Regions from separate parts of the Homo sapiens genome. Here region 1 is linked to region 2. Evidence: fine-mapped expression QTL. A gene starts in region 2. The other region holds a variant in brackets. All regions are shown on one strand. Distances are between the middles of the regions.

The links. PIP is the estimated chance that this variant, and not a neighbour inherited with it, causes the effect.
Region 1: its variant is the best candidate, but not a certain one, in a credible set for the expression of INMT-MINDY4 in coronary artery (GTEx, PIP 0.51).

The regions. Positions count from the first base shown.
Region 1 is chr7:30,836,144-30,846,114 of GRCh38, forward strand. It overlaps MINDY4 (MINDY lysine 48 deubiquitinase 4), which reads left to right. Exons shown (of 18, transcript NM_032222.3): 7 at 515-621; 8 at 3,057-3,173; 9 at 4,617-4,705. It overlaps INMT-MINDY4 (INMT-MINDY4 readthrough (NMD candidate)), which reads left to right. Exons shown (of 20, transcript NR_037598.1): 9 at 515-621; 10 at 3,057-3,173; 11 at 4,617-4,705. Among named protein-coding and RNA genes, the nearest start is that of MINDY4, 70 kb to the left of the region's middle. The variant G/A (reference allele first, on the strand shown) is at 5,080.
Region 2 is chr7:30,747,632-30,757,602 of GRCh38, forward strand. It overlaps INMT-MINDY4 (INMT-MINDY4 readthrough (NMD candidate)), which reads left to right and starts at 4,504. Exons shown (of 20, transcript NR_037598.1): 1 at 4,504-4,673; 2 at 6,103-6,307. INMT (indolethylamine N-methyltransferase) reads left to right here and starts at 4,504. Exons shown (of 3, transcript NM_006774.5): 1 at 4,504-4,673; 2 at 6,100-6,307; 3 at 7,791-9,971. The coding sequence starts at 4,520. The coding sequence ends at 8,220.

The DNA of each region.
Region 1 (9,971 bases), 89 kb after region 2:
TCAAGCAGTCAATAAATGCAAGTTACAATAGTGATTATATGCAATAATTATTTTATCAGCAATGGTTCCATTTTCTTTCCCAGTCCTGTCCTCTTCACCTTTGTCCTTGGGGGAATGATCTTTCGAGTCATGCCCACCTTTTGTAAGAAATGTGTCTGAGCTAGGCTTTCCTGGTCCTGGTTCGATGGCTTAGGACCCAGGCACTTGTTCCACTCTATGTCCATGCGTGGAACTTTCTAGTGGACCAGTAGCTAAGTCTCACTCGGCAACATCCTCGTGGTATGAACAGAGCAGGGTTGTGACAAGGAGCATGGACTCTCTTGATCTGGTTGCTTTCCTTCCGCTAAGGGTCTGGGAACTTCAGAACAGAGCTGGGGTGAATGAATGCGGGGAGGAACCCTCCTTTCACTCAAACCTTCTACAAACTTAGCAATGTCTGTGGTGTTCAGTGACTTCATGTTCTGTTCTCCGTGAGTCATAACGAAGGGCTCACATGGCCATGGTTTTCTTTCAGAGGATGTGGAGGATGAGTTGATAAGGGAAGAGGTCATCCTGTCGCCAGTCCCATCAGTGCTCAAGTTGCAGACAGCATCAAAACCAATTGACCTCTCAGTAGCAAAGGTAAGTGTAAGGAGACTCCTGGGTTAAATGTGTCTTGATTTGAATGGATATAGATGGCGTGATTTTGGTGTTTCTGCCCCAATCCAGCTCATTGTAATCTCTTGGTCATTGTTGAAATGGAAATTTGGGTGTGATGTAGAAGAAAATGTGAACCGAGAGTCAGGAAAACTGCAGTCTAGTCCTTGCAGCTCTCGTTCCCTCTCCAAGACAAAAGGTGAGGGAGGAGGTTATGTCCTCCCCTCCAAATACCGTGGGAATAGAGCTGCTTCATCATGTCCCTGTGGGCACCGTTAGGGTGTGATGGAAATGGTCCAGTTGTCCCCATTAGAGCAGCGCTGCTCCTGTACTGGTCTCCTAAGCCCTGGCCAGGTTGCAGTGAAGGAAGGACAGGGAGGTGTTAACAATTCTTCAGCACTGTTCAGGTGTACTCCCTTGGCCACTTAAAGGGCCCCGTGGTCACAGGGGACCAGGAGCAGGTTCCTGGCCACAGCAGCCTCTTCTGCAGGGGTGTCTGGGATTGCTCACCATGCTCGGCTACCAGGGTGGCCTCACCACTCCCGTGACCAGAGGCTCCTGCAGGATGGAATGTCATTCCCGCTGTCCTCTTCTGGCCTTTCACCAAGATCCAGGAGGGAAAAATAAAACTCCTAGGGACACAGCTGACTTCCTTCTCTTCCTACTTACTACATATTTACTCAGCATACAAATCAAAGAGCAAAATATTTTTCTAGAGGTTTTGTCCTTTCGTTTCCTTCCCCTCTCCTCCCCTCTCCCCTTCTCTCTCATATCTCCCCCTTCTTCCATTCTCTCTTTTGAAGCTACAGAGGGTCAGATACACTTAAATGGCCCCAAACCTGGGAGGAGGTGCTCTGTCATCTGTCACCATGCAATGAGTCTTTGCAGAGCGCACTTATGCTTGGGGCAGACCCCTCAGGCTCCTAAAGACTATGCAGCAGTAGCGTCTCCAAAAGCAACTGGAAAAAGTGAGGCCTGCAGAGAAAACAGGAGGGCCCAGGGCACGTGGCCTCTGGAAAGCAGAGTCCAGGTTCCCAGGCTCTGTTGACCACACTGTGCCTAGCGGGAGCTGTCATTCTGAGCCCTGACAGATGAATCCACACATCCTTTCTCCTGTGTGCCACCAGCCCACATTTGATGACATGTGGACAAATGCTTCTGTCAAAGAGATTTTTCCTTATATTTAATGAAAAGGAAAAAAAGAGCTGATTCTGGTGGAAAATAATGAGTCTGTAGGAAAGGTCTGACCCAGAGAGGGGGTACAGGGAAGTGGCTGTAGAATCCACCTGCTGGTCTTGGGGCTCACTCAAGGCTTCAGAGACCCCCTCAGATGTAAAACCATGGCAGAGAGAGGGTGGGCCCATCATGAGGGGAGTGGGCGGGGACCTGCTGCCTTTCTCATCTGAGGGCCTGTCCATGGGGAAGGGATTGACCATTCTGGGGGCTCTGGAGGGTGATGCGTGGGTTGATGGGAAATGAACAGTGAACTCATTATCAGCCAGAAGTCTGGAGAAGACAGCCGTGAGAAAGTAGAGGGGCTGCCTTGAGAGGTGGTGGGAACCCCTTCACTGGGGGGTTGGGATGGTTCAAGCAGAGTTCACGGGGGACCACTCATGGGCGGCATCACAGAGGAGGTTCTTACGCATGGTAGAGAGTTGTACTAGACCAGGAGTTGGCAGGTGTTTTCTGTAAAGGGCTCAATAGTGTATTTTTGGCTTTGCTGGCAGTGTGATCTCTGCTGCACCTATTCAACTTTGCCATCATGGTATGAACACAGCCATGGGTGGTATGGAAACAAATGGGCTTTGCTGTGTGCCAGTAGAACATTATTTACAAACAGGTGGTGGGGGCAGATTTGGCCTGTGGGTCACAGTTTAGTAACCCTGCACTAGAGCACTGGCTCTCAAACCCGGCACACTGTGGAATCACCTGGGGGAATCTTAAAACTACTGATACTGGAGTCTCACCCTCAGCAACTGGGGTTTAATTGGCTGGTGTGTTTTCTGAACATCAAGATTGTTTTTAGGAACTTCGTATCCTAGATGGTTCTAATGTGAGGTCGAGTTTGAAAACCCCTAGTCTTGCCTGTGGAAGATCAGAGGACCTCCAAGATCCCTTGCAAATCTAAAATTTTGTTTCTCAAGGCCCCTGTAAGGAGCTTACAAAGATTTTGGCCCATGTCAGCACAGGCTAGCTTGGTTTAAAGATGTTCCAGAGGTAAGACCCTCATTATTGAGTTTCTCTTTCATCAAATATAAGAAGAATGAGCCTGAAAAATAAAAAGAGAAGAGATGAACCATGCTAGAAAATGGGCTTCCCTGCTAGAATTCAAGAACAACTTCTGCAGGAATATGCACACTGAACATCGTATTGTTGCTTGCTTTTAAAACAACCAGTAAAACTCTCTCTTCTTTTTATAGGAAATAAAGACCCTTCTGTTTGGTTCCAGCTTTTGCTGTTTCAATGAAGAATGGAAACTTCAGAGTTTTTCCTTTAGTAACACAGCCTCATTAAAATACGGCATAGTGCAGAACAAGGCAGGTTGCTCCTAGGTTTCCTTGGGACCTTTCTGCTGGGCCATCATGCATAGGGGTGGGTGTACCTCCCAGTTTTGGTTAATCCTGTGAGCATTAGCTGAGCTATTCTGGACCAGCCAGCCCCACATGTGCTGAGTTGTCACTTGGTGCAGGCACTTCAGATGTGGCTGGTGCAGCAAGAGCTGGGGAATAAGACCCTCTGCTTTGGAGATGTTAAAATTGAACATGGATTTAAGGAGCACTTGCTGTGAGTGGTGCAGGTGCTGGGATCCTCAGCAGGAGAGAGAGCAGTAGGAGGCCTTCAGTCTGCTTGGGGCCACTAGAGGGGCCTTCTTAGGCTGATCATTGAGAGATTCACAGGATTTTGCAGATAGAGCTGGAGAAAGGGCACTCCAGGCAGGTGGCAGCATTAATGAAGGGGAGGCGGTTTGAAAGTCTAGGGGCTGCATGAAAAGGCAGAGGGATCAAGTGTGCAGAGCAAGTGCTTGAAGAGAAGGATGTAATAGAAGCTGGGCCAGCGGAGGCCAATGGTTGCAGGCCTAGAACATGGCTTATACCCAGTTCCCACATTATACTCATGGGCAGAAAATAAGCTAAACCCAGGATCAAGAATCAGCAGTTGAGCAGGGCAGCTTGGTCCGGTTCAGTTTCTTAAGCCCCAGGAACCTCCCCTGCCCCACACTGCCTGAGGTCGAGCCCCAGGACCACCAGCTTCTGTCCCTCCCTCTTGTGGCCAAACTCAGCTGGTCTTCATGAGCACCCCAACCTGCCGTTCAGACAATCCTTAAACCTGGATGAGGTCTGTTTGTGTTGTTCAGTCCCACTAGCCTTTGCCAATGTGTCCCAGGAGTCAGATCCTGTGCTAAGCCCCGTGATGCCTACAGAGATGAGCTCCTCAAGAAGCCTCTGCACCACAGGGTGAGAAAGGACAAAGATACACCTAATGTGGTGCTGAAGCAGGCCACAAGTGGGGCAGAAGAGAGCGCAGAGCTCATGTAACCACAGGCTGTTGAAGGGGCTCACTGCCAGCCGAGATGGTCAGGAAAGGCTTCTTGGAGGAGGAGAACTTTAGGATGGGCCTTGAAGGCTGGGTAGACAATTAACACCCTCAACCTGTAGACACAGAAACATTTCCCTAGATGATAGAAAACCTATGGTGATGTCCTTGGCTTCACAGCTGACTGGTTATGAGGAGTCACTTTCCTCCCATGACACACTGACAACTGGCCCCTTCCCCTAGGAGTGGACAAAGGGTCTTGTCACTCCCTCTCTGTGGCCCAAGGTTAGTGTGTTGTAGAAGCAGTTGCCACATCAGAGGCCCTTCTGTTGCAGAAGGCAGGGCCCCTTTACTCTATCAGGTGGGTTCTGGGGTGGGTTTGGGTGAAACCAAAAACTCTGCCCCAGGCCAGTTCTCACTGGCAGCAATGGTCTCATTCTTTGCAGGGTGGTCCTTGCGGAGTCCTGGCAGCTGTCCAAGGCTGTGTCCTACAGAAACTCCTGTTTGAAGGAGATAGCAAAGCCGACTGTGCTCAGTAAGTCAGTGCTCTTTCTGGCAATATCTTATTTTCCCAAGTCTTCCCCAGAGTGTCCAGAAAAAACAAGCAAGGAAGCATGTGTGTTCCCTGATATTTCCTGTCTTCTGCAGGTCAAGAAAGGAGAGGTTAATGGCAGCTAGCTGACAAGGCCTGCGCAGACCAGTGTTAAGGGGACTTGTGCGCGTTTGTTTCTGAAAGCGGGGAGGGTTCTCAGTGGTGCTCCACCTGGGAAGGGGCTGCAGGAACGACATCAAAACCAATTTCCCTCCTCAGACGGCAAGCTGCCCGAATCCCTTCCACCCACCAGGTCGACCTGCCGACCTTTCGACTGCGTCCGGGCCTCCCTTCCCTCCCCACGCTATCTCCCCTCT[G/A]CCAACATTCATAACCACACATTCCAGGCCGCCCCACAGATCATCACTTCCACTCCCTGCAGCCGTTCAGTTTCCATTTCACACATTAAGTGTTTGCACATGAGCACCTTATTCTCATTCATTCAGCACACATTCCTGGAACATCTCTGTGCAGGCACAAATGATACAGGGGAGAATTAGATGAGTTCTGTCCTCTCCAGAAATGCTCCATGAGGTTGAGAGGCAGATAGAAAACCCCAATCCCATACCATCGTTGGTGCCAAGATGAAAGGATTGGCAGGGCACTGGTGGGGCTGGAGGCGAGGCCTTCTTGAGGAAGTGACCTGCCTCTCTTTCCCTCCCTGCAGGCCCGGTTACCAGCTTGTACCGAGTCACCCTCAGAGCTACAGAACTTCTGGCAATTGGCCTTTTTTAAAAAAAAAAAATTTAGTTAAAATATAACATATACACAGTAGTTATACTATGTGTGTTCTGCTCAATGAATTATCACAAAACCGCACACCCATGAACACATTGTCTAGATTAAGAAAAAATATTTCTAGTACTCCAGAAGCATCCTCTGGTACCCAGCAGGTACCCCTATTCTCCTGAAGTTATATTAATAATTAAATGGATTTTAAAACCATAGCTTAATCTTGCCAGTTCCTGAACTTTATTGAAAGGTACTTGTTCTTTGAAATAAGCATTTGAGAATCTTTTTTAAAAAAGCCTAGGTGTTACCCAGACAACAAGACCCATTTCCCATGCATTCCTGGGAACGACACTGTTCACTAGGAGAGCCATCCAGCCAAGCTTGGTACTCCAATGAAACACATTTCACCAGCACGGATGATTTTTCCTTAGTTAGGGTTCAAGTGAAGGTGGCTTTTCATGCTTGGCATCTTAAAATTTTTTCCAATGGTTTTGCACAATAATAATTGAGGTGTTTCCTCTCCAACCAAAAATGCTAATCAGAAGCACAGCAATGTAACACTTCCGTGGCAAGATCTCACCTGTCCTTGTTCTTCTCTCTGCTTCCCCTCCCCTTTGCTCTCCGGTCGATCCTTCGTGGCTCTTGTCTGTACAGGATCATGCCCCACTGCCTGCTCTGGAAGTTCAGCCCCACAAAGGGCTGGGAGGTTTGAATGTCATGGGCAGAGACCCTGCCATCAGCTCTCCCTGGTGGGCTCAACACAGTCCTGTATGCTCAGGAATGCTCCTGACTGGGTGGAACTTTGCTAAGTAAGAACCGCTGGCTGCCCTCAGAGGGTACAGGGATACTGAGCACATATGCACCTACCTACCTACCCACCTTCCTTCCTTGCACTGAAAAAAATGTGCAGAGTGTGCTTAGCAGGTCCTCAGCAGGGATACAGGGCTGAACAAGACACATACAGGTGCCCTCATGGCACCTATGATTGAACAGGAGAGCCAGACAGGAACAGGTGGTTACAGGGGACATGCACGGTGCTAAGGGTTCATCTGGACATGAAGTGGCTCAGGGCGGGCAGCCTGGTGGACTGACATTTTCATCTTACGGAGATAGGAAGGATGGACAGAACCCCTGATTCCCCTTCATATGCATCCTTGCACACTCTTATTCCCCCTCAAATTGTTTTCACCTTCCCAGCAAATATTCTCAAACACCTTCCTGAGCCCTCAGGCTCTGTGCTCAGGCGCTGTGCCTGCTGGCTCCTCTCATTGCACAGAGGCCACATCTTTGTGGAGGCCTCCTGGGACCTCCCCCATTAAGATAAAACCAGGCCCTGCCTCTAATAACTCCACTGCCAGCTGGTGCTCTTGCTCATCGATATGGTTACCTGTCCACATCTGCCGCCACCTACTACTGCCCACCCCACTCCAGAACACAAGCCCCGTGAGAACAGGGACCTTCCTGAGCTGGTTCACAGCCAGGGCCCTGGCATCCAGCCCTGTGTCTGGTCCACAGAAGAGGCCCTCAGAATTTTTGTTGAGAGAACACATGGACAAATGAATGAGTTATCCAAACAGGGAGGGGAGGCAGAATGGTATTCCAGTAAAGAGAACAAGATGTGCAAAGCCTGTGGGCAGTGAGAGGAGTGGAGGAGTCACTGGGGGTGGTTAGGGCAGCATTTGGAGGAGGAGGGTGGGAGCTGGGGTAGTGGCAGGTCAGCGCCAGGCTGCCAGAGGGGCCTTGGGTGCTGCCAGCTGCTTGGATCAAGCCTTGGCCCTTGCAGGAGATTGTCTCTAAACTCATTTCAGCCTAGTGCTCCTTCAGAGTTGCTTTTGAACTTCACCGTGGGCTTCTGGGGGAACTTGTGGATGGTTTCCCAACAGTCAGGACAAGGCATTTAAGCATGTTCCAGGAAGAGCCGACTCTGCTCAGGGCACAAGGCAGACTTGGTTTTTGTTACCCCACCCCCAGGCCACATCCATGGGGTGGAAGCCCACTGCTGTCCACACCAGGGAGGGAAGCCAGGCCTTAGAAGGCAAAAGCCATCCAGGTTGGGATCCCAAGGGGGTGTCTGGGTAGAAAGAAAACTGCTAAGCTGGAGGAGTGAGGTTTTCTATCTGTCGTTGCCGGCCAGGCAGGTACCTCCTAGCTGCAGGCCAAGGATGGTGCAGCCCAGTGGGTCCTGGGGCTGTGGGGGTGGGCAGAGGAGGAGGGAAGAAGGAGCTGCTGGCCTGTTGGGGGTCATCATGTGTGGAGGTGTGCCAGGTGCCAAGGAGCCAGACCTTATGGGGGGGCCTGCCTGGCTGGACCAGAGGAGGTCTGTGCCATGCAGCTGGGAGAGCACGGCCTGCTGGCCAGGGCCACCTTCTCCAGCGAGCCTGGAAGGATTCATGGTGTAGGAGAGTGACCTCGCTTTTGTTTGGAGCCCTGCAACTCTGGGTGCTGCTTGTAGCCCACCCCCTGGACTGGGTGCTGCTTGTAGCCCACCCCTACCGGCTGCTGCCCCATCACAGAGGTGCTGTGCTGTGCAGGTTGAGTGAAGCGGTCTGACTTCCTGCTCCCACAGACCTCCTAGCAGGCCTCAGGGGACATTCTTCAGACTCCCCTGAGAGGGAGGAGTGGAGAGCCTGGCTTAGTTATGGAGCTCGCTGAAAAAGCCTCAGGGGACTCAGGCAGAGCTGTCACAGGGAGACAAGCTGGGGAGGCCCAGAGACCGTCTCCCCTGACCCCAGCAAGGACTCGCCTCCTCCTGGTGATGGGCCCTGGGCAGCAGGCACCAGATGCCCTCCCCAGCCCTCCCACCCCAGTCTCCTCCCACTCTCCTGCACTGGTCCTGCCTCAGGTCGCAGGTAGATAGGGGTTGGGGAGGAAGAACCCTCCTGAGGACAGGTTAGGGCTTCTGTCAAGTGAAGACCCGGAAGACCAGGGAGTGAGGGCCTGCTGTCGGGGGCCTGGAGAAGAGAAGGGAGGTGGAGTCCATGTCACTGCTTTGCCAAGGCCCTGAAGGTCAGAGGCTACAGAAGGTTGTCCTTGCCAAGTGGGTGGGTGTCTAGCCTGTAGATGTTGGTGCCCAGGCTGGGAGGGGGAATGCCTGGCTTTGTGCCCCTCAGCCACCCTGGGAGAGGGGAAGGGTGCTGAAGAGGGTACCAGACCGGGTCAGGACCTGGATTATGGTTGTGTGGAAACAGAGCATCACTTTCTCCGTTTGTGAACTAGGAATAGTCATCTCTGGCTTGCCTAAATTGGACTCAGTAAGAAAATGCAAAGTCCTTTGTAAATCTTCAAGGGCTCTATAAGTGAGTAGGGCCATTGAACTCAGCCTGCCATGGTACAGATGGGGAAACTGAGGCCCAGAGAGGGAAAGATGGTTGTTCAGGGTCACATCTGGCATCCCTGGCAGAACCAAGACTGGCACCTGGTGCCCCTGTGTCACATTGTGCTGCTGTGCCCTGCAAGAGGCATGGAGCAGTGGGGGCCCAGGGAGGCCAGGAGGAAGGCTGAGGGCTCTGAGTTTTAGACTTCCATCGCTGGACACCCACACAGACTCCTAGGGACCAAGGGGTGGCTCTGTTCATGAACGGCTTCACGGTGGAACCTCCCCTTTGGCTTTAAGTTAGAAAAGATGAACACAGAAGAGTACAGAGAGCAACATAGCAAACACCTACAGAGCCCCTGCCCCACACGAGCAAAGGGAAACACTGGGTCACGTGGGCAGGAACCTCTCTCAGTCCTCAGCTCCTCGGTTTCATTGACTTATATAGTTTTCACATTGATTGATTGTGTTATTGATGTTCCTTCAAAAGCCATGTGTGAATGGTTGGGTGTGAGGCCTCAGCACTCCCTTTTGACTCTGAAATTCTAGGATTTCAGACATGATCCAGCTTAAAAAAAAAAAAAAAAAAGGGCAAGCTCTTCTGTTTTCTTCAGGAACACCACGATGACCTGCCATCAGCTGCCATCTGCTCTGCGGCTCTGGGGAGCTCAGGCCCTGTGGACCCAGAGGCAGCCCCTGCACTTTCCTGCCTGTGTGCGGGGTCTGCCTTGGCCCTGGAGGCCCCCACCTCAGATGTTGCCCACCACATCTGGTGGGGAAATGGTTCTGTGAAAGCAGATGGAGGATGGGATCGCACCCTCCAGGGAAGTCACGCTGAAATAAAGGCATCTTGGCAGTGGTGGTGTTTTTTCTGCAGGACTGTCTGGCTTCATTACGACTCATTCCATCAGGCCGGCAGCCGGCCTCTCCTCAGTCGGGAAGGATGGAGCTGGGCAGCAGTACTTGGTGTTTTTCCACTTGAGAAGAGGCTGTGCCGGCTTGGCTCACAGAAAGAGATGAAGAGCTCTTGATCCCCCTGAAGGCCTGGAGAGAGCCACAGGCCAGGAACGGCCCTCAGAGGCGGGTGCGGATCTGAGAGTCGGGGAATCCAGGAAGTCCTCCTCTCACTTCCACTTCCCCTCTGAAGTTGGGGAATTCGAGGCCCAG
Region 2 (9,971 bases):
ACGACTGGCCTTATTTTTTATTTCTTCAGGTTTTGAGTTCACAAGAAAACATTTCAACAGAGTGTAGATTTTAATCCATTTTTAAATCATAATTCTTATCATTTTATTGTGTTAAATGTAAATTTTCCTCTTTTCTAAAATTAACAGAGCTCATACTCTGTGGAATTTCAGTTCAGTGAGAAAAGTGTCAATTACATAATAAATGGTGATGGCATAACTACCTATCTGATTGGAAGAAAATAAAATTAGATGTCTACCCAGTTTATTAAAAATGAATTTCAAGCCTGGGCAACATAGCGAGATCCTGCTTCTGCAAAAAAAATTAAAAATTAGCTGAATGGGATGGCGTGTGCCTACAGTCCCAGCTACTCAGAAGGCTGAGGTAGGAGGATTGCTTGTACCCAGGAGTTCAAGGCTGCAGTGAGCTATGATCCCACCACTGCACCCCAGCTTGGGAAACCAAGTAAGATCCTGTCTCAAAAAAAAAATTCATATTGAAATCCAATTAACGTGAATTCTAGGTGGGTTAAAATGATTGGTGACATTGAGGGTCTTATATTTGTCCCAGCATTTCTCATGTCAGAATTGGCCTCTGCCGCTGCACTCTTGCATCTGAAAAGTCTTTGCAGGGCTGTGATCTCCTCACTGTGTGTACCTATCTGGATCGCTTTGTTCTCCTAGCCCTGGGCCAAACTCACTTCTCCATGTCACCAGGAAGGCTCAGGAATGTCAGTTTTGGGGGCTGTTCAAGTAAGGTTGACTTAATTGCTCTCCAGTGCTTGGCAGGTAAGAGACTTGCAGGTTTTCCTTGCTGTAAATAATGTTGTAATTAATACCCCTGTACATTTGCTTTTTCTGTATTTGGATTATTTTTCTGTATTTCTGCATTCTGTATTTTTCTGTATTTTGGATTCCCATACGTAGGATTCCTGGGTCAGAGTTCTAAAAACTTTTAGTATAAATAATTTAGGCAAATAATCACCAAATTTTTTTCCAAAAGGAAAATAGTGCTTTTTCTTTTTAATTTTTTAGGAAAAATTTTTAATTTTTCTCTAACAAAATATGAGATAATGTAATATAATGTAAAATAATAAATGTGGTTTTTTTTTTTCTCTTCAGGCTTTCTTCAATCTAGGTTTAGAAAATCCTCTCTTACCCAGAAGTTTGATAACAATTTGACCATGATAGCTTCTGTGGTTGATTTTTGGAAAGACATTTTAGCCTTTATTTTGGTGTTTTGTGTGAGACGAGGGTCTGAGTAGCTGCTTGCAACTCACCAGAGAAAACAATCTCATTTACACTGGCAAGTTCCCTCTTTGGACTCATTTCTTCACCCCACAGAGCCAGGCAGGAAGAGAAGTAGCAAGGTATCAGGGAGCGTGGAATGCTGAGATGGTAGTTTCCCTAATCTTGAAAAGGAGCTTGATCCTTTTCTTATCTGTCTGACTTTTCAAGTGGTCTTAGTTTCTTGATAGGCAGTTTGAAATTTGCCCCTTTGCTTACTATTGCAACAGAAGTCCTCTTGAATGGAAATTTCCTTGCTCTATTTTAAAAAAATATCACTGTATAGAAAGGTGCCTAAGATGAGGTGCACATTCTTAAAAGGGCCTGAAGCTTAGCCCTGTCATGAACAAAGTTGTCACATTGATGAAGGCAAACCTAAGGATAGTGGTTCTCAACCGGGGACAATTTTGCCTCCCAGGGGACATTTGACAATGTCTGGGGACATTTTTGGTTGTTGTAACTTCGGAGTGTACTGGCATCTAGGGGGTAGATGCCAGAGATGCTGCTAAAAATCCTATGACACAGTTCCGCACCCCCACCCAACAAGGAATTACCTGGCCTGAAGAGCAAATAGTACTGAGGTTGAGAAACTCATTCTTAGAATATATCCGTAAGAGGCTTCACTTTGAGAAGATTGCCATAGTGCTGTTAGGACCCTTGGTTAGGCCAGAGTCACGAGGCATGTAGGGATGGAGAAGGCCTGAGTGGTGGAGAAGCAGGTGGAAGCCAGAGGGTAGAGACTCTGAATGCCAAAGGGGAGTTTGGATTCATTCCTCTGGCAGCAGGAGGCACTGGAGGCCTTGCGTTAGGAGGGGCATCCTCTATCCATCCAAGGACATCCAGTTGCAGCATGATGTGTAGTTCTGGGAAGGATGGTCTCTTCCCGCCCTGTACAGACCCCCTAGATGCTCACGTCCTGCTGCAGGGGCTCTGGGTAATCCCTGGATAGTACATGCATGTCCACGGTTCAACTCCTTAAGTGTTAATGCTGGGCGTCTTCCATGTGCCTCTCCATTCTGCTTTCCATCCTCTCCAGGCTACTGCAAGTGCCAGGAAGCTGACATGTGGACTGTAGTCACCACTCCCTTCCCTCTAAATTTGGCAGGATATTGGAGGAAGGTAGGAGAAGGAGGTCTGGGTATTTATTCTTTAGCTACTCTATTAGTCCGTTTTCATACTGCTAATAAGGACATAACCAAAACTGGGTAATTTATGCAGGAAAAAGGTTTCATGGACTCACTGTTCCACATGGCTGGGGAGACCTCACAATCATGGCTGAAGGCAAGGAGGAGCAAGTCATGTCTTACATGGATGTCAGCAGGCAAAAAGAGAGCTTGTGCAGGGAAAGTCCCCCTTATAAAATGATCAGATTTCAAGAGACTTATTCAGTATCATGAGAACAGCATGGGAAAGACCTGCCCCAATGGTTCAATTACTTCCCACCGGGTCCCTCCCACAACATGTGGGAATTGTGGGAGCTACAATTCAAGATAAGATTTGGGTGAAGACACAGCCAAATCATATCAGCTCTTTTGCTATTGGCTGCTGCAGGAGGCCCTCTCTGCACAGCTCTGTCTCAGTCTCACTGGGATGATGGCTCCTCCATGCTGCTAGCCCTCAGGTTCTGTGATGGTGCTTTCTATGAGTCAACTTGGCTAGGTCATGGTGCCCAAATAGGTGGTCAGTCATGATCCTGGCTGTTTGTGTAAGGGTGTTTTTGGATGAAATTCACATTTAAACTTTGAGTAAAGAAGATCGCCCTCCATAATGTGGGCGGGACTCATCCAATCAGCTGATGGCCCAAGTAGAACAAAAGACTGGCCTTCCCCGAGCAAGAGGGAATTCTGGCAGCAGCTGGTCTTTGGACTTGGACTGCAACATTGGCTTTTCCTGGTCCCACCCTTCAGAGTTTGGACTTACTGGCCTCCACAATTATACAAGCCAATTACTTAAAATAGATCTGATTCTCTCAGTGTACACAAGCTGGGTTCTCTTTCTCTGAAGAACCCTGACTAATAGAGGTACCATATGTCTTCCTTCCACCCTGCCCACAACTTAGTTAGCACCGTGCCTTTATTGCACACTCCTCCAATCATGTAATGCGAGCCCTGCAGTTTCCTGCCTGCTCTGTATGCCTTTTGCAGGCCAGCACGACAGCCGCAGGCCTCCCTGGAGGCTGCCCAGGCACCCGCCCCTTGGAAGCCAGGCCCTGACGACCGCTGGGTGTTCCTGCGTCTGTGGCATCACCCATCTGTTGGGCCCTGTGGATTCAGAATTGTTTGTTTACTTAAAGCCAGAACAAGGCATTCCTGTCCTTCCCACTTTCAGGGCAAGAGGCCTGAACCTCCAGTGTAGCGGATTCATTTCTGTCCGGTTTGTGGCCAAGTCAGAGCCATTTCCTAGTGCCAAAAACAGAGACTGAGCTTTTTTCTGTCTGTGGGAGATTTTACAACCCAGTCCCATTTCAAAGAGAAGACTGAGGCCAGGAGTGTCTTACCCGGAGTAGCCAGGTGAGTCAGTGGCCAGGAAGCCAGGACCCCTCTGACAGTTTATGCTTTATGACCGGGCGCCCTTGTTCTCATTCATGGAGATTGACGACAATTTCTGCTCTTCTCCCAGTGACCTGCACAGTGATGCCAAGTCAGCCATTCTGCTCTGCCTCCTGGGGTCTGAACTGTGTTCTCCAGCAGGGATGGGGGATGCATGAAGCTGCACCCACTGCCTGGCCTAGAGAGAGCCACTGGGCCCCAGTGACCACCAGGCGACAAGATGGGGATCTCACTGTGCACTCAGGTCACAACACCTGTGACTTAGAGGAGTGACTTTGGTCCTTACAGTCAGTGAAGTGGGCACGCAGGTGGGGAAACATAGGTCTGACACCTACTTGGAGGCCACAGAGCAGCATGTGGCTGCCAGGGCTGAGAGTTGCACCCAGGGCTGGGCACCATCAATTGCCTTTGACGGACATGGGTTGGTCCCTAGAGGCAGCAGGGCCAGGGCGGCTGCAGCCCCAGCTGTCATAGCTCTGGGGTTGGGGAAACCTCAGGTGTGTCAGTGTGGCTGGGAGGTGGTGAGACATGCACTGCCTTCTGCATCCCCCTAGAAGGAGAAGCTCAAGGAAAGGCATACTTGGGAGGAGCCATGGGATGAGGCTGGAATGCTGGGGGTGGAGCCTGGAGAGCTTGGAGCCCTCATAAGACCTGATAGCAAGGAGGGGGCACATTTCAGGGACACCATGAAGGGTGGCTTCACTGGGGGTGATGAGTACCAGAAGCACTTCCTGCCCAGGGACTACTTGGCTACTTACTACAGCTTCGATGGCAGCCCCTCACCCGAGGCCGAGATGCTGAAGTTTAACTTGGAATGTCTCCACAAGACCTTCGGCCCTGGTGAGCAGAGGGTGGCCCTTCCCCTTGAGCCTCTCTCCAAGGAACCTGGATGGGGATGGGGAGACGGTGTCCTGGGGGCAGTCTGGTCTCCTCTAGGGGTTTTTGGGGATGGGCTGGGGGAGCTTCTGGGGCCCTGCCCCCTCTCTTTGGGCAGCTGTTATGCTGGAGGTTGAGTCTGTCTCCCCATGGCTCAGGAGCTCTGTGCCAGCTGAAGAGCACAGCCCCGTGCAGTTCCCACACTGCTCTCCATTAGCCCCTAGGTCTTTGGGGTGGAGCAGAAAAGGCTCTCCAGGTCATCATCAAGTTCAGTCCTGACCTTGCACAGCCAGGCCTCTGGGGCCCCCAGAAGGCCAAGGGCAAACAGCAGGGTTGCAGTGGGACGGGATCGCCTGTGCCCGGAGTGTGCAGCCTAGATGTGTCTGTGATGAGGACCTGGAAAAGCCCTGCCCTGGGACAAGGATTGCTAGGTGGGGTCTCAACCCTGAGCAAGGGGCTCAGACCCCAAGGACCTCAACTGAGCCATCTGCACGATGGATGGTGACTTCTGCCTGTCTCCCGATGATCACTGCCCTCCCCATGGTGACCCCATGATTTGATTGTGTCTTCTAAACTCAAGCAGCCGTGTCCTCACTTTAGGCACTTGACTGGGGAACAGTAAGGGTGAGTCTCCTGGTGGTCTGTGGGATAAGAGGGGGTTAAAAGGCTGCTGAGCCTGGAGGAGCAGGCCGGTGTGGGAGGCAGAAATCAGAGAACAGCCGGACTGGGTGTGACCAAGCTTGGAAGGCCAAGTGATGGCCCCACGCCAGGGCTCCAGACAGAATGTTGGAAGTCATGCTTCATTCCAGCTTCCAGGTGACCCTGGATTCACTCCTGGGGCCATCTTCCCAGATCATCTCCTTAGCCCCGGCTTCCTATTCCTGTATGCTTTCACCCCTCCCTCCTCCAAGGAACAAGAAACCCATCCAGGAAGGGCTGGACTTCCAGGGGAGGCTTCCAGCTCCCAGTCAGCCTGAAACTTAAAGGGCCACTGACCCCAGCATGTCCTCTCTGAACTCTCCAGCCCGAATCTTCCCCAGAGCAGGGCTTGGGCCTCTGTTCTCTGTCCCAGAAATATTATACTCTTGGCTTATGTTCTTGACTGAAAGGTATTGGGCTAATTGTTTAACCTTTTACAGACTCAGTTTTCTAATCTGCAAAATGAAAATAGTGATAGCAGTCACTACACAGGGTAGTTTTGAGGTGTAAATGGAAATTAACACATATAAAATATTTGGCATGAGGCTTGGCTTACAGGGAGCTGCCAATCCGTGATAACCACCAAGCACGTTTGCCCCTTGGGTAAGACCAGGGTGTGTGTCCTCATCCCTGTGTCTGCCTTGGGTCTCGTTTCTTTTACCCATCCATTACCAGTCTTTCCCTCCCACAGGAGGCCTCCAAGGGGACACGCTGATTGACATTGGCTCAGGTCCTACCATCTACCAAGTTCTTGCTGCCTGTGATTCCTTCCAAGACATCACTCTCTCCGACTTTACCGACCGCAACCGGGAGGAGCTGGAAAAGTGGCTGAAGAAGGAGCCGGGGGCCTATGACTGGACCCCAGCGGTGAAATTCGCCTGTGAGCTGGAAGGAAACAGGTAGGGGTGCAGAGGTTGGGGAGGGGGTTCCCAGTCAACCTTCTTTCTCAGAAGTCTCCCTGGCCTCTTTGTTGTCTCTGACATTTTCAGGACAGTAGGACCTTCAGGTATAGGACCAGATGTCCTGTGGTGGGGATAGAGTAGATGGAATCCCAAGTTTCAGGATTACAGCAGTTTTAGGGGCAAGACTCTGATCACAGGACTATGTTGAGGTGTGATATAGTCAAGTATGAACACTGAAAACCAGATGATTTTCATCTCTTCCTTCTTCTCTTCCTTCCTTACCCTCATCTATATATCTACCTCTCTATCTTCTATGTATCTAACTATCCGTGCATATCCATCCATCCGTCCACCCACCGGTTCATCCATTCATCCATCCATCCATCCATCCATCCATATTCATGCATCCACCCACCCATCCATATCCATCCATCCATCCAGCCAGCCAACTAGCCGTTCACCTATCCATCCATCTATCCATCCGTCCATTCATCCATCCATCAATATTCATCCATCCACCCACCCATCCATTCATCCATCCATATCCATCCATCCATCCATCCATCCACCCATTCATATCCATCCATCCATCCACATACATCCGCCCAGCCATCCATCTATCCATCCATCCACCCATCCATCCATATCCATCTATACATCCATCAATCCATCCACCCATCCATCCATATCCATCTATCCATCCATCCATCCATCCATCCATCCATCCATCCATCCATGTCCATCCACATTCATCCACCCACCCACCCATCCATCCATCTTTCCTTCTTCCCTCTATTGTCTGTACCTGTGTGACTGACTATATAATGTATAATGACGTGAACTCACCACCCAACCTGAGTACTCGAATATAATAAAGACTTACCTGTGCTTCTCTGTGACTCCTTGCCTCTGCCTTTCCCAACCTCGGGTAATCACTAATATGGATTTTATGCTTATCATTCCCTTTTTCAAAAAATTTTTTTCTTGCATACTTATGTATATCTAAACAATCTATAATTTAGTTTTAGTCGCCTTTGAGCTTTATAGCAGAGTAATTTGCTCTGTGTCATTTGCGATTTGCTTTTCATCACTCAAAATTATATTTTTAAGATAGCTATATTCATACATTATCTGTAGTAAATTCATTAATTCATTCATCCATCCATCCAATAATGTTTGTTAACTGCCCTCTCTGTGCTTGGGGTGGCTTTGTCCATCCTGGGGATTAAGGGAAGGGGGCTCACATGGAATCAGAGAGAGAAAGTTTCCTATAATTGTTCTAGCCATTCTCCCTAACCATTTTTCTTTGGGAGAAACTGAGGCTCAGATTGAAGAAGAGCCTGCTGTCAGGTCACACAGGGACTCAGGGACAGCAATCCTTTGGGGATCCAGAGATCATCTCCATCTGCTGGTCACAGTGGACTGAGAGTTCCCTTCAGAACCTCAAAGGGCCTCCCCGACTCCCTCTCTCTCTCTGCAGCGGCCGATGGGAGGAGAAGGAGGAGAAGCTGCGGGCAGCGGTGAAGCGGGTGCTCAAGTGCGATGTCCACCTGGGCAACCCGCTGGCCCCGGCTGTGTTGCCTCTCGCCGACTGTGTGCTCACCCTGCTGGCCATGGAGTGTGCCTGCTGTAGCCTTGATGCCTACCGCGCTGCCCTGTGCAACCTTGCCTCACTGCTCAAGCCGGGTGGCCACCTGGTGACCACTGTCACGCTTCGGCTCCCGTCCTACATGGTGGGGAAGCGTGAATTTTCCTGCGTGGCCCTGGAGAAAGAGGAGGTGGAGCAGGCTGTCCTGGATGCTGGCTTTGACATTGAACAGCTCCTACACAGTCCCCAGAGCTACTCTGTCACCAATGCTGCCAACAATGGGGTCTGCTTCATTGTGGCTCGCAAGAAGCCTGGGCCCTGAGCCAGGAGGGCCAGCCAGAGGTCTGGTCAGGCTGTGAGGCCTTGGCCATCTGTATGCTAGAGAGGGGTGAGGAATGGATACTGTCTAACAGTCTCTGATTTCAACACTAACATTCCATCTTCTGAAATTCTGAGATTCTAACATCCTTGTTTTAGAATTCTAAGTTTCCAACATTCCTCATTCTAGGATCCTAGGAGTGGAATTTTCCATTTTCTAATATACTAAGCCTTACAGCTATCTTAGATGCGATCTGACTCCTGTGTGACTGTGGAGCACCCAGGGACGTGGTTTTAGAGTCTACCTAATATGTTAAGGACAAGGAAACCTCTGAGTCTACCTAATATGTTAAGGACAAGGAAACCTCTGGACAGTGGTATATTGGGGAATTTTTTTTTTTTTTTTGAGACGGAGTCTGGCTCTGTCACCCAGGCTAGAGTGCAATGGCACGATCTCGGCTCACTGCAAGCTCTGCGTCCTGGGTTGACGCCATTCTCCTGCCTCAGCCTCCCGAGTAGCTGGGACTACAGGAGCTCGCCACCACACCCAGCTAATTTTTTTTTTTTTTTTTTTATTTGAGACGGAGTTTCGCTCTGTCGCCCAGGCTGGAGTGCAGTGGCGCGATCTCGACTCACTGCAAGCTCCGCCTCCCGGGTTCACGCCATTCTCCTGCCTCAGCCTCCCGTGTAGCTGGGACTACAGGCACGCGCCACCATGCCCGGCTAATTTTTGTATTTTTAGTAGAGATGGGGTTTCACCGTGTTAGCCAGGATGGTCTCGATCTCCTGACCTGGTGATCCACCCACCTTGGCCTCCCAAAGTGCTGGGATTACAGGCGTGAGCCACCGCACCCAGCCAGGGGGAATGTTCTATAACCAGCTCTGTAAAGGAAAAGCACTGATGTGTGGTAGTCACCAATTTCTGTGGTGTAAATACTCCCACCATGGTTGATTTCAAGCCACCAGTGGTTTAATAACCAGCTCATAAATCTCCTAAATATTTTACAGTTGACTCTCATGAGCTGATTGGAGTCAGCTGGAACATACCACTGCCTCTAGACTAAGGTCAGCAGATTTAGCAAATACAGACTGCCCCAGTTCATTGAATTTTAGATAAATGAAATAAATCTATAAGGTTAAGTATGTCCCCAGAACTGCATGGAACATGCTTAATCTAAACAATGATTTGTTGTTCACCTGAAATTCAAATTTAGCTGGGTGTCCTGTATTTCATCTGGCAACCCTACTTCAGACCCAGGTGTAAGGTACATGGATGTGCTTTGGTCAAGGAATAGGCCAAGGCAGAGATCCATGCCTGCATGACTCAGTGGGTTTGGTGCACAGGCACACACCTCCACTTGTTATATAACCTGTTTGTGTAAGTTCATACTTGGTCTGAGCCACTGTTGTCTGTAAAAGGTAATTGTCCTGCTAATGCTGTACAGGGGCTCTTGGGGTTCGGCTCAGCTCAACATGGCTTGACATGGTGGGCACACTGGCGCCCAGTAAGAGAGAGAGAGAGCCAAAGCTGTCCGTTTTGCAGATGGACAGGAAGGAGCCAGGACACAGCTCAGCTTGCTCACGCCCAGAGAGAGAAAAAGTTAAGCTGCTGACCCTGAAGGCAAGGGAGAGCAGGCTGCACAGCTGTGTGTGGAAGCCACGGGCTCAAGCAGCCAAGGCAGGGCGGACAGTGTGAGAGAGCTAGTGTAAGCTGTTGATGAGAGCTGTTGCTGAATAAAACCATATTCACCTGCC